Homo sapiens: one gene and its partners. The protein of the gene in region 1 interacts with the protein of each later gene in a biochemical or structural test. Each region holds a gene or a part of one and is shown in the gene's direction. Other genes may lie near its edges.

Evidence for each region. The genes of interacting proteins can lie anywhere in the genome.
Region 2: the proteins of TMED10 (region 1) and COPA form a complex in vitro, tested with the Homo sapiens proteins (one study listed by BioGRID).
Region 3: the proteins of TMED10 (region 1) and ARCN1 form a complex in vitro, tested with the Homo sapiens proteins (one study listed by BioGRID).
Region 4: the proteins of TMED10 (region 1) and COPG2 form a complex in vitro, tested with the Homo sapiens proteins (one study listed by BioGRID).

What each region holds. Positions count from the first base shown.
Region 1 is NC_000014.9:75,170,109-75,173,636, reverse strand, and holds part of TMED10 (transmembrane emp24 domain-containing protein 10 precursor), read left to right. Parts: intron 1-3,528. UniProt on the Homo sapiens protein: Cargo receptor involved in protein vesicular trafficking and quality control in the endoplasmic reticulum (ER) and Golgi.
Region 2 is NC_000001.11:160,308,749-160,312,276, reverse strand, and holds part of COPA (coatomer subunit alpha), read left to right. Parts: intron 1-258; coding exon 259-409; intron 410-2,018; coding exon 2,019-2,085; intron 2,086-3,100; coding exon 3,101-3,176; intron 3,177-3,528. UniProt on the Homo sapiens protein: The coatomer is a cytosolic protein complex that binds to dilysine motifs and reversibly associates with Golgi non-clathrin-coated vesicles, which further mediate biosynthetic protein transport from the ER, via the Golgi up to the trans Golgi network.
Region 3 is NC_000011.10:118,582,383-118,585,910, forward strand, and holds part of ARCN1 (coatomer subunit delta), read left to right. Parts: intron 1-796; coding exon 797-976; intron 977-1,426; coding exon 1,427-1,632; intron 1,633-2,097; coding exon 2,098-2,262; intron 2,263-3,528. UniProt on the Homo sapiens protein: Component of the coatomer, a cytosolic protein complex that binds to dilysine motifs and reversibly associates with Golgi non-clathrin-coated vesicles, which further mediate biosynthetic protein transport from the ER, via the Golgi up to the trans Golgi network.
Region 4 is NC_000007.14:130,662,247-130,665,774, reverse strand, and holds part of COPG2 (coatomer subunit gamma-2), read left to right. Parts: intron 1-2,736; coding exon 2,737-2,808; intron 2,809-3,528. UniProt on the Homo sapiens protein: The coatomer is a cytosolic protein complex that binds to dilysine motifs and reversibly associates with Golgi non-clathrin-coated vesicles, which further mediate biosynthetic protein transport from the ER, via the Golgi up to the trans Golgi network.

The sequences.
Region 1 (3,528 bases):
ACCAGCTTAATGGAACCACAAGGGTCCTAAACCCAAATGCCAAATAGGTAATATCATTGAATAAATTGGACCAGGTATTTTAAAAAAAAAAGCAGTGATGATAAATGGGAGAATAATTGGACGTAGTAGAAACTGTTAATTAGGGGTGACCAATACTTAGTTCTTGATGAGACTTGCCATGCAAGCATGTGGGCCTTTTTGCCACATCTGATTTTTCCCTTCCCCTCCCCTCCCCTCTTCCTTCCCTTCCTTCCTTTCTTCCTCCCTCTCTCCCTCCCTCCCTCCAGTGGCACCATCACAGCTCACTGCAGCCTTGACCTCCTCAGGGCCCAGGTGATCCTCCTACTTCAGGCTCCTGAGTAGCTGGGATTACAGGCACATGCCACCATATCCGGCTAGTTTTCATATTTGTTTGTAGAAATGGAGTTTCGCCATGTTACCCAGGCTGGTCTCGAACTCCTGGGCTCAAGTGATCCGCCCATCTCGGCCTCCCAAAGTGCTCGGATTACAGGCATGAGCCATTGCACCTAGCCCACATCTGATTTTTCAAATGAAATAGGAACACCAGATTTTGATGTGAAAGCTCCAGACTTTTAAATTTCATCAGCCAGGTTTCAGCACTGCAGAGCTTGGGAGCTCCCGGCCCACCCGAGGGCCATGGATCTCATTGTCCTCACCACTGCTTTGCCACTCCATTTTCCTCAATAAAATGGTTTGGCCCCCTAAAAATTAAAAAAAAAAAATTTCACCAGCCAATTCAGATTGGTTCGGGCATTGATTTGTTTTCAGTGTTATAGGGAATAGTATAGTGAGTTCACCTTTCTACCCATTACTCATATTCACCAATTATCAGGATCTTTCCACACGTGTCATCTTAACTGCTTCTGCCATATCATTTCATGCTAAATTGTATTAAAGTAAATCCCAGATGTCATGTATTTCATTCCTGCCTACTTCAGCATGCATCTCTTTAAAAATATAAACCACAATGTTACGTGGCTAATCACGCCTCACAAAATGAACAATGATGGCCAGGCGCGGTGGCTCATGCCTGTAATCCCAGCACTTTGGGAGGCCGAGGTGGGCGAATCACGAGGTCAGGAGTTCGAGACCAGCCTGACCAACACGGTGAAACCCCGTCTCTACTAAAAATTTAAAAAAAAATTAGCTGGGCGTGGTGGCACACATCTGTAATCCCAGCTGCTCTAGGCTGAGGCAGGAGAATCTCTTGAACCTGGGAGGCGGAAGTTGCAGTGAAGTATGATTGTGCCACTGCACTCCTACCTGGGCTACAGAGTGAGACTCTGTCTCCAAAAAAAAAAAAAGAACAATGATTCCTTGATACCCAGTCCATATAGTATGATCCCACTTGTCTCAAAAATATCTTTTGAAAGTTAATTTGTTGTCTCTCTCAAGTGTCTAATCTAGAGCAGTCTCCTCTTCCTCTCACCTCCTTTTTTATCCTTGCAATTGAATTGTTGGAGTCAATTGCTCTTAAAAGAATGTACAGCATTTCGGAGTTGTCTTTTGCTTCCTAGAGGTGTCTTTTAACCAGTTCTTCCACTATATTTTTTGTAAAAGGAATCAGCTGTAAAGATGTAACCAGAGGTTCAGCAAACCACCATGGCACACGTATACCTATGTAACAAACCTGCACGTTCTGCACATGTACCCCTCCAGAACTTAAAGTGTAAAAAAAAAAAAAAAGATGTAACCAGATTCAGGTTTAATCTTTCTGTCGAGGGTGTCACTGCAGGAACACACAGTACTTTTTGTGCCCCTTATTGCTGCTGCTAAGATTGATAAGTGGATTAAGGTGTGTCTTAGTGTCCTATTGCTGCTGTAACAAATTACCACAGATTTATGGCCTAAAACATCAGGGATTTGTCTTAATCGTTCTGAAGGTCAGAAGTCCTAAAATCAGGGTTTTGGCAGAGCCATGTTTCTTCTGGAGACTTTTTGGGAGTGGGGTGGGGATCAGTTTTCTTGCCCTTTCTAGCTTCTAGAAGCCACTTGTATTCTTTGGCTCATATCTCCTTCCTCCATCTTTAAAGCCAGGCTGGGCGCGGTGGCTCTCGTCTGTAATCCCAACGCTTTGGGAGGCCAAGGCGGGCAAATCACTGAAGGTTAGGAGTTTGAGACCAGCCTGGCCAACATGGTGAAACCCCGTCTTCACCAAACATACAAAAATTAGCTGGGCATGGTGGTGCACACCTGTAGTCCCAGCTACTCAGGAGACTGAGGCAGGGGAATCGCTTGAACCTGGGAGGCGGAGATTGTAGTGAGCCGAGATCGTGCCACGGCACTCCAGCCTGGGTGACAGAGCGAGACTTTGTCTCAAAAAAAAAAAAAAAATTAAAGCCAGTAGCATAGTATCTTTAACTCTCTCCCTTTCCTTCCCTTTTCCATCCTCTGCTTTGTTCCTCACCACCCCTTCTTCCTCTCTTCCTCCCTCCTTCCCCGGCTATCATCATCTCATCTCATTCTCTTACTCACCTGCCTCCCTCGTTCCCTTATAAGGACCCTTGTGATAATCTTCTCCACCTCAAGACCCTTAATCTGATTTAATCACATCTGCACAATCCCTTTTGCCATGTAAGATAACACATTCGTGGGTTCTAGGGATTAGGATGTGGACATCTTTGTGTGTGGGAGGCATTTTTTTCTCTACCCGGGTGGTAATAGCCCAAAGCCTTCATTGTAAAGTTTCCCATTAACCTTTCACTTAGGAATCCACTGATGACTACTGTGTGCATTTATTATGTCATTAAGGTTGTGAAATGATGACTTTCTAATTCCGTTACTCCTTCCATATTTATTAGCTGAAATTATTCTTAAGGAATTAATATCATCTGATTATCCTAAAATTTATCATTCACATTGGTAGGATAAATGCAGAATTTATTTCTTCTAATTGATAATTGTCAGAGTAAGGAATTGTTGCCCTTGTCATTTTCAGTGTTGTCCAAGAGTTTTTGGGTTTTTTTTTAAAGTATTTTACTGAACTCTTTTTAATTGTTGGCTTCAACTTTTAGAATCATTGTGTTTTAGGCAGTTGTTTCCATTCTTTATGCCCAATTTGTCCCTTTGGTTCCTTCATATTGGCTCCTGTATTTTTTCAACATAATCCTGTTAGGTTTTGATAGCATCCTTGTTTTCTGGCACAACAAAGTGTTCTAGGCTTATCTTGTATATGTCTATCCTCTGACCTCAGAACAACTGTTTCTCTAAGGAATTCTAGTTCCTTTTTGTGGGGATTGGTATTTGGAGACCACAAGCTAGGTGTCATTTTTGAAAATGTAATATACCATGCAAGCCACAGAACACATTTGTGAGCAGATGCAGCCCATAGCGGCTTTCAGTCTTTTTCATGGTGTCCGTTCACTTAGTTCCACTTTTTCTTTTTTTGTTGAGATGGAGTCTCGCTTTCACCCAGGCTGCAGTGCGGTGGTGCAATCTTGGCTCACTGCAGGCTCTGCTCCCCGGGGTTCACACCATTCTCCTGCCTCAGCCTCCCAAGTAGCTGGG
Region 2 (3,528 bases), on another chromosome or scaffold:
GTACAAAGCATTAGGGGAACACAGAAAAGGGCAGTGTGGATAGTGACACTAAGTGTGGCAGTGTGAATAGTATTAGGAAAGGATTCACAGAGAATTATTTAAATAAAGATTCCAAGAATTGTGAGAATTTAGGCAAATAAGGGATGCATTCAGGTGTCTTGTCTTACAGATATAATCTTCATCCTTACGTATCTCCAATTTCCAGGTTTTTTTCTTGCCTACAGCTTAATTTTTTCTCCTCCTCTCCCTGTCCCCCAGGCCATGATGGTGGTATGATTGTGTTTAAGCTGGAACGGGAACGGCCAGCCTATGCTGTTCATGGCAATATGCTACACTATGTCAAGGACCGATTCTTACGACAGCTGGATTTCAACAGCTCCAAAGATGTAGCTGTGATGCAGTTGCGGAGGTAAATCGGACTTGTTTCTTTCCTCCAAACCCTCTCATCTGTCACCCTGATACAACTCCCACAAACAAGACTCTTCTTTTCTTTCTTTCATTTATTTATTTTATTTATTTAATTTTTTTTTGAGACGGAGTCTCGCTTTGTCGCCCAGGCTGGAGTGCAGTGGCGCGATCTCGGCTCACTGCAAGCTCCGCCTCCCGGGTTCACACCATTCTCCTGCCTCAGCCTCCCAAGTACTGGGACTACAGGCGCCCGCCACCACGCCTGGCTAATTTTTTGTATTTTTTAGTAGAGACGGTTTCACCATGTTAGCCAGGATGGTCTCAATCTCCTGACCTCATGATCTGCCTGGCTTGGCCTCCCAAAGTGCTGGGATTACAGGCGTGAGCCACCGCGCCCAGCCTATTTATTTATTTTTAAATTTTTTTTTTTTGAGATGGAGTCTCACTCTGTCACCCAGGCTGGAGCGCAGTGATGCAACCTCAGCTCACTGCAACCTCCACCTCCTGGGTTCAAGCAATTCTCCTGCCTCAGTCTCCCAAGTAGCTGGGATTACAGGTGTGCACCACCACACCTGGCTAATTTTGTATTTTGAGTAGAGACGGGGTTTCGCTGTGTTGGTCAGGCTGGCCTCGAACTCCTGACCTTGTGATCCGCCCACCTCGGCCTCCCAAAGTTCTGGGATTGCAGGCGTGAGCCACCGCACCCAACCAAGACTCTTCTTTTAAATGACATTTTGGATCTCGTATTCTGTCACAGATGGAATCCCCATTAGATGAGCCCGCTCAGTTTAAACCCAATGAGTGAGGGAGGCAAGGAAGTGGTCATGAGTAGAATGATAGTTCCCTTCTTGAGAATGCTAGTGACCTTGTGGATGGAAAATCATTCTGCCACAATTTGCTGGGTCTCTTGCAAGCCAGAGGAAGTTTCTTGATAGAGAATGGCCCAAACTGGTAACAGAACTTTTCGCCTTTGTTTGGCATTTCTTTTCTTTAACTCTCCCTTGCCTTCCAGCAAAAAGTGCACAACTCTGAACCAGAATATATGTCCCTGGAAACTCTTAATTCTGAAGATACAATAACCTCTGGGATGCCTGGCAAAAGGACCTGTCCTTTTGAAAAGCCAGCTGCATCAGCATGCTGAAACATTCATGGTGGCAAAATTTGGAATGAGGTTTTGATAACCACCCTTTAGCATCATTACAATAAAAAAATGGGTTTATGTGAATACTCCAAGGGACAGGAGAAACCAGCCAGAGACAAATCACATTATGTTACTCTGTGGTGTCCACTGCAATTACGTGTAGGAATTTGTATCCAAGCAGAACCAGTCCCACTCACTACAGTGAGTGTTAACCCTACCTACCTTCTGTTGAATAATTTGACTTCTACTATGGCTTACTTTTTAAAACTGTTTGTTCAAAGCTGAGCTAGGGAAGTTGCCAAGCCTTAAAGGAAGAGAATACAATATTTATTCATTTTATTCCTGATTATAAAAGTGATGAGTATATAGTGTAAAGATTGGATAAGTAGGAGGTGTGGGGGTGATTCCTTTCTTCCTTCTATTCTTATGCCTCTTCCCTGTTTTCTCCTTTTTCTATATATATCTCTAGTGGTTCCAAGTTTCCAGTATTCAATATGTCATACAATCCAGCAGAAAATGCAGTCCTGCTTTGTACAGTAAGTAACCTGTGGAGCCCTCCTAGGTTCTCCTCATTTTCCATAGGTCTCTTTCTTATGCCCTTAGGGAATCTTTAATGGCTTCTTAGAAACTATTTAATGGTCATTTTGTGAGAGCTGACACAGTGATCACTCAGAGACTCAAATCAGGTAGGTTTCAGTTGTCGTAAACATATTGAGCATTTGTGAACTGCCTATCTTTCCTAAAGCTGAACTTAATGGAGCATCAGAATGAATGACCCAGATCACTAGAAATAATTTGAGAGAATGTTTAGACTATATATATATATTTCCTATGGAAAGAAAATGTTTACCTTGATCCCTTCCTTTGGGTGAAAATAGAAGAACTATTATTTTGAGAGGAAGTTCATATCAGTGGGGTTGGCTTCAGAGTCATCAATGACTCCTCTCTGTTTCTTGCAACAGAATTTGCAAAAAAAAAAAAAAAAGAAATGACATTCTAATTTTAGTGCCCTCGTGGCCAAGTTAAAAGGAATGAAGTTAAATGTCTTTCCTCATATAACTATATTGTCTAATCTGTTCTTCTTTAATATCTAGTAGTCCCATACTCTGAGTTTTCTTGAGTGTTTTTTCTTTTCTTCTTTTTCCAATAAACATTTGCATTCCTATAGTGTCTTTTCTTTGATGTCTTTTTTTTTTCCTTTCCAGAGGTTGAGTACTCAGTTGATGAGTCCTCAGGGTGGGGTACCAGAATATCAGGGTCCTAGTCTGTTAATTTGTGGAGTAGAGAGCATTTCTTACTTTCATTCAGATAATATCTGCATCTTTGGAGGATAAAGAAAATAAAGTGACATCAGTGCTGATGTGTTTGGCAAAGAGCCCTATAACTCATAGATGTAGAAACAGTCAAATGCCCTCTGGGTGAAGGGTAAGAAAAGTATGGTTTCAGATTGGTGTCTGTGCAATGGAACTGTTTTCTCTGTCAGAGTAAATTGGAAAACTGGTATCTTGGGTGCTTCTCACTAACATTTTAATTTCCCCTTTTCTTCTACAGAGAGCTAGCAATCTAGAGAATAGTACCTATGACCTGTACACCATCCCTAAAGATGCTGACTCCCAGAATCCTGATGGTAAGTGTTCTTTTTGTCTACCCCACTCTGCTTCCAGCTCTCCTCACCCGCATCATAACTCCTCTTCAAGTTTTTCACATTCCATCCCCAAGCCATGGCCACATCACTCATGTCTGTTGGCAGGTGCTGCTGACAATTGCATCAGAGGCGACCATGGTGTGAAATATTCATGTTCCTCCTCCATTTTATTACCCCAGCTAGATATATATATTTTATAATTTGGTTATTAGAAACTCTCCATTCTCTCTTTCAGCACAGCATGTTATCCTAGTTTATTGTCAGTTGATATGACTTTCACCCTGGTAGTTTCATTTATTTAAAAATGTGGTTCCAATCTTATAATGCCTCATCC
Region 3 (3,528 bases), on another chromosome or scaffold:
GCGTCCCGAAGTGCTGGGATTACAGGCATGAGCCGCTGCACCCGGCTGTAAGAATCAGGGTCTTGGGCGTGGTGGCTCACGCTTGTAATCCCAGCACTTTGGGAGGCTGAGGCGGGTGGATCACCTGAGGTCAGAAGTTTGAGACCAGCCTGACCAACGTGGTGAAACCTCGTCTCTACTCAAAATACAAAAAAATTAGCTGGGCATGGTGGCGGGCACCCATAATCCTACTACTCAGGAGGCTGAGGCATGAGAATTGCGTGAACCCAGGAGGTGGGGGTTGCAGTGAGCCGAGATCGTGCCACTGCACTCCAGACCGGGTGACAGAGTTAGACTTTGTCTTAAAAAAAAAAAAAAAAAAAAAATCAGGGAGTTAGGCTGGGCGCAGTGGCTCACGCCTGTAATCCCAGCAGTTTGGGAGACTGAGGCAAGCGGATCACCTGAGGTCAGGAGTTCAACACCAGCCTGGCCAACATGGTGAAACCCCGTCTCTACTAAAAATACAAAAATTAGCTGGGCGTGGTGGTACACACCTGTAGTCCCAGCTACTCCGGAAGCTGAGGCAGGAGAATCACTTAAACCCAGGAGATGGAGGTTGCAGTGAGCCGAGATGGCACCACTGCACTCCAGCGTGGGCAGCAGAGCGAGACTCTGTCCCAAAAAATAAAATAAAGACTAGAAGTAGCTAATAAAGGGATTTAGGTTATTGAAATTTATGTACTCTAAAGGATAAGACTTGGAAATATAGCTGCTGATAAATTCTAAATCTTTCTTTTTTATTGGTGTCCACGCTTAGATCCCTGAATATTGCCGAGCCTTAGAAGAGAATGAAATATCTGAGCACTGTTTTGATTTGATTTTTGCTTTTGATGAAATTGTCGCACTGGGATACCGGGAGAATGTTAACTTGGCACAGATCAGAACCTTCACAGAAATGGATTCTCATGAGGAGAAGGTGTTCAGAGCCGTCAGAGAGGTAAATAGGATCTTCTCTGGGACTACCTGTTTGTATGTCTTTCTCTTAGGCTTCACTAATCTCATTTTCCTATTTTTACTTACTAATGTAGACTGTATTCAAAACTATGTCCAGGCTAGGCACAGTGGCTCATGTCTGTAATCTCAGCACTTTGGGAGGCGGAAGTGGGAGTATCACTTGAGTCCAGGAGTTCAAGACCAGACTGGACAGCGTAGTGAGACCCTGTCTCTATAAAAAGTAAAAAAAAAATTAGCCAGGCATGGTAGCACGTGCATGTGGGTCCCAGCTACTTGGGAGGCTGAGATGGGAGGATCACTTGAGCCCAGGAAGTTGAGGCTGCAGTGAGCTGTGATTGTGCCACTTGCACTCCAGCCTGGGTCACAGAGTGAGACCCTGTCTCAACAAAAACCCAAAAAAAAAAGCTACATTAATGTATGTCTTTTTCTGTAGACTCAAGAACGTGAAGCTAAGGCTGAGATGCGTCGTAAAGCAAAGGAATTACAACAGGCCCGAAGAGATGCAGAGAGACAGGGCAAAAAAGCACCAGGATTTGGCGGATTTGGCAGCTCTGCAGTATCTGGAGGCAGCACAGCTGCCATGATCACAGAGACCATCATTGAAACTGATAAACCAAAAGTGGCACCTGCACCAGCCAGGTATAATCCAGTGTACTTTAGAATACCAGGTGAAGGGTGTATATGTGTCTATCTTTGAAGTCATAATCTGATTTCTTGGAAAGCTGTAAATAAAGAAGGACTTGATGAAGTAAGATATGATGTTACATTTGGCCACATACAATATGAGGATAAAGAAGAAATCTGAATGTGGTGTTTTTCCTTTTGTATAAAAGAGAGTTATAAATTATGTCATGACCTCAGTTTCCTATGAGAGTTGCCTTATTGTGGGGAGGAAAGGGCTATTTAATGCTTTATGGAATGTAGATTTTTAATCTTGATGTTCATTGATTGATTTTAGGGGAAATCTGTGAATTACCCAAAATTATATACAAAATTTTGTGCACAGGTGTATTTCTCTGGACGGGAGATACAAAATTTTCATCAGATCATGTGTGCTTGTAAAAATAAACCTTTGGGTAATGAATTTCAAATTCTTCCACTTAGGCCTTCAGGCCCCAGCAAGGCTTTAAAACTTGGAGCCAAAGGAAAGGAAGTAGATAACTTTGTGGACAAATTAAAATCTGAAGGTGAAACCATCATGTCCTCTAGTATGGGCAAGCGTACTTCTGAAGCAACCAAAATGCATGCTCCACCCATTAATATGGAAAGGTAAGTAGGAACTTTGAGTAAGAATTCAAGCTTTGAATACAGTCCACATAATTTTTTAAAAATCTTATTTCAGTGTGCTATAAATTCTTTCTCTGTCTTTTAATCGTTCCTGATTTAAAAGATTTATTCAGAGCAGATTCTACATATTAACATAAGATCGTTTTTGGTTTTGTTTTGTTTTATTTACTTATTTTTTTTTGAGATGGAGTCTCACTCTGTCACCCAGGCTGGAGTGCAGTGGTGTGATCTCGGCTCGCTGCAAGCTCTCCCTCCCAGGTTCACGCCATTCTCCTGCCTCAGCCTCCCGAGTAGCTGGGACCACAGGCGCCCACCCCTACGCCCGGCTAATTTTTTTGTATTTTTAGTAGAGATGGGGTTTCGCCGTGTTAGCCAGAATGGTCTCGATCTCCTGACCTTGTGATCCGCCTGACTCAGCCTCCCGAAGTGCTGGGATTACAGGCGTGAGCCACCACGCCCGGCTGTTGTTTTGTTTTATTTTTTTGAGACAGGGTCTTACTATGTTGTCTAGGCTGGCCTCCAACTCCTGAGCTCAGTTAATCTTCCTGCCTCAGCCTCCCAAGTAACTGGGATACAGGCATGCGTTGCTGCACCTGACCTTTTCCTTTTTCCTTAAACCATGATTGGGGGCCCTCAGCCACCTATTTTCTATGAAGTTTAGAACTTTCCTTTTACAGCTAAATTAAAGTTACTTGTAGTCACACCTGGTATATAGCGTATCTCTTAGAATGCACTTGAATTAGGGGACTAGAGCTATGGTGACCCCACACTGTATTTTGGCATGACTTTTTCTAATTAAAGTCTAAGTAGAACCAATCTTTAATCCAAAACTTGTAGATATCTTTAATAGCAAATTAATATATTTTGCATTTTTATTTTATTTATTTATTTTTTTGAGATGGGGTTTCACTCTGTCACCCAGGCTGGAGTACAGTGGTGCAATCTCAGCTTGTTGCAACCTCTGCCTCCCAGGTTCAAGTGATTCTCCCACCTCAGCCTCCCAAGTAGCTGGGACTACAGGCATGCACCACCACGCTGGGCTAATTTCTGTATTTTGGTAGAGATGGGGTTTTGCCTTGTTGCCCAGGCTGGTCTCGAACTCCTGGACTCAAGCAATCTGCCTGCCTCGGCCTCACAAAGTACTGGGATTACAGGCGTCAGCCACCATGCCCAGCCATCTTTTGCAGTTTAAATATTTGAAGCCAGTATGGAATATTTTGATTCATCTCTTATCTCAGGGCTGTGGTA
Region 4 (3,528 bases), on another chromosome or scaffold:
ATGGATTCATATTCCCTCAGTATCAGTGGGGAATTGGTTCCAGGACCTCCATTGGATACTAAAGTCCATAGATGCTCAAGTCCCTCATACAAATGGTGTAGTATTTGCATATAACCTACACATATCCTCCCATATATAAGTTGTCTCTGTGATTATAATACTTAGACTATAATCTCTAGATTACAATACCTGGTGCAATGTTAGTGCTGTGTAAATAGTTGTTGTGCTGTATTGTTTAGGGAATAATGACAAAAAACCATCTGTACGTGTTCAGTACAAACATAGTTTTTTTTTTCCTTGAATATTTTCAATCTGAGCCTGGTTGAATCCACAGATTCAGAACTCATGGTTATGGAGGGCTGACTATATATGTCTATACACATACAGACGGACACATAAAACATACATATATACCATATACCTCAGGTGGTTTACATATGGTGCTAAGATAACCATGGTTTCCAATTTGAATTCTAAGAGAATATATTATCTTTACTTTGTTTTGTGACTGAAGACCTCACTCAGAGATTTAATAAAGTTTTCTTGTTTACAAATGAAGACTAAGCAACAAGCACATAGATTTTTTTTATTTTTTGAGATGGAGTCTCGCTCTGTTACCAGGCTGGAGTGCAGTGGCGCAATCTCGGCTCACTACAACCTCCACCTCCCTGGTTCAAGCAATTCTCCTACTTTAGCCTCCTGAGTAGCTGGGATTACAGGCATGCACCACCACGCCTGGCTAATTTTTATATTTTTAGTAGAGACGGGGTTTCACCATATTGGCCAGGTGGGTCTCAAACTCCTGACCTTAGGTGATCCGCCCACCTCAGCTTCCCAAAGTCCTGGGATTACAGGTGTGAGCTACTGTGCCTGATCATCAAACACATAGTTTTAAATAAAATATATCTGTTCACAAACAACATAATCCCTCTGTGTCAGCATATGAGAAACATTTAAAGCATAGTCAATTGGGTTTAACTTTTCATAGCACACATTGTGTCTAAGTTGGCCAAATCCATTGTATAAACAAAAGTTTTGAATAGTCAAAGTTGATTGAGAGTAACATGTATTTTTATGTTGGTCATTACCTCTTCAATGAGGCAACTCATGTTGAAACATTTAATTATCTTGATAAGGAAATTACCAAGCACAGCATAAACACAATTAACTATATAAACAGGTTTGGGAACATAAATTTTATCTCTTTGCCTAGAACTTGGTAGAGCTTTATAGAAAGATACTTTTGAATTTCTATGAGAGTTGACATATCCATGTGTTTTCTGAGTTTCAAGTAAAAAAGTAGGATGTAAGGTTTTCCTGTATAACTAAAAAGCACACAGACTTCTGGGTATTCAGTAAATAGTTGTGAAAGAAAGATAAATCTCATGCTGATGAGCAGGCTGGATACACTGATTTAAGTAAGTATAAACTTATTGTACTTTGTCTTTTATCCTAAACTGTCAGTATTTTTCACCAAAATTTATTCTTATACCTATGGCAAATAGATTGAAGACTAGTTATATTTTATGTGGAATCTGAAGCTCTGAAAAGTGATTGAGTGTAACGTATTATATAAGATTGCTTTTAGTGAAGACATTAAATATTGAAATGGTAATATTTGAGGTAATCTATGATTTGAGATGTTTTGAAATACGTTATCTAACACTTTTTCACTGCTCAGAAAATGTAGTTCCCAGATCAGCATTTGCATCACTTGTTAGAAATGCCAAATCTCAGGCCAGGCGCAGTGGCTCAAGCCTGTAATCCCAGCACTTTGGGAGGCCGAGGCAGGTGGATCACGAGGTCAGGAGTTCAAGACCAGCCTGGCCAACATGGTGAAACCCCGTCTCTACTAAAGATAACAAAAAATTAGTTGGGCGTGGTGGTGCACACCTGTAATCACAGCTACTTGGGAGGCTGAGGCAGGAGAATCACTTGAACCCAGGAGGTGGAGGTTGCAGTGAGCCAAGATTGCGCCATTGCACTCCAACCTGAGCAACAGGGTGAGACTCCGTCTCAAAAAAAAAAAAAAAAAAAAAAAAAAGAAAAGAAATGCAAAATCTCAGGCTTTACCCCAGAGCCACTGAATCAGAATCTGCATTTTGGCAAGATCCCAGGATGAATTGTCATGCTCATTAAACTGTTTGAAGCTCTGATCCAAAGCATGTTTTTAGGGGCTTGAACCAATATTGAGCTACATAGCAGCCCCTTAAGCCTAGTTTTTTAATATGATGAATCTGGTTCCTGCCCTTTTGGTTGGTCCCCTTCTTGCCATTTTGCTGAGATTCTGAATAGATAGTTCCTTATATTTTAATATTTATTATGCTCCCATGACATGTTAGGCATTGTGCTGGGCATTATAGATATGATCTCTGCTCTTAGGCAGTGTAATAATAATGTCCTATTGTGAGTGCTGTAATTTTCTCCCTCCTTGTAAACTACAATACTTCAGGAAAATTTCAGATACTTTCTACTAAAAGTTTAGAGATCACTATGCCAGAACTTTTAAGCATGGTATGCGATACTGAATTATTTTAAATAAGGGGGGATAAATGGCTATGTGGGTTTATGCATTGAAAGCCAGAAAAATTGCAGAGGCAGAATGTTTACAAAGAGATTCTTTTTTCTTGAGTTCTAAAGGATTTTTGCAGAAATAGAAAATCCTGTGTGTGTATATGTACATATATATGAATATACACTTTTTAAAATTTAAAAATTGTTTTAAATTTTACTTAGGGTGAACACTTTGGAACAACGGAAGCTACAGAAGCCTTCTTTGCAATGACGCGATTGTTTCAATCTAATGATGTAAGTCTTTTTAAATTTTTTTTACGATGAAAAACCTCCTTTTATTTATTTTCCCCAGGGAACTAAGAGTGTTCTAAATTAGGGAGCATTGCTTGAAATGTTTTAAATTATTTAACTGCTTATAAAACTTATAAATATTCATTATAAGACGTGAAAATGGAAGAATTAAAGTATGCAGTGTAAAACTTTTCCCTGCAGATCTACCGTGAAGTCATAAAGACTGTTAATACCTAGCTTCTGGCATGACACTGTGAAGGTGGACTGATAAAGAAGTCAGTGCACATAGCTACCACATTTGTCAGTTCTTAGTCAAGTTTCTGGTGGGCCTGGGATTGCTGTTAGTCAGCAGTGCTGGCAGTTGAGAAGAAGAGCTGGATGTGGAGTGGGGAAGGGGAATAAGGAATAGAATAAGGAAAAAGAAAAATGAGTACAAACTAAACCTGCCTCTCATTACCTTAGGCCACCCTGACCTTCAGAACATACAGCTGCTGCTTTTTGTCTGTCTTCTAAGTGTTGTGTACATTTTTCTTTTGCCTAGCTCTAAGGCAGAACCATACAGGGAAGGTAATTCTGGGATATGTATTTTCCAGCTTTCCATTAACATAAATTGGCCAAATCCTGCAGTTTTTTGGTATGTATTGCATATCATCACATGTCACATTTTGTGTCAACCCCCAGAACCTCTTGAGATTTGAGTCTTGTTATGGATCTAAATAATGA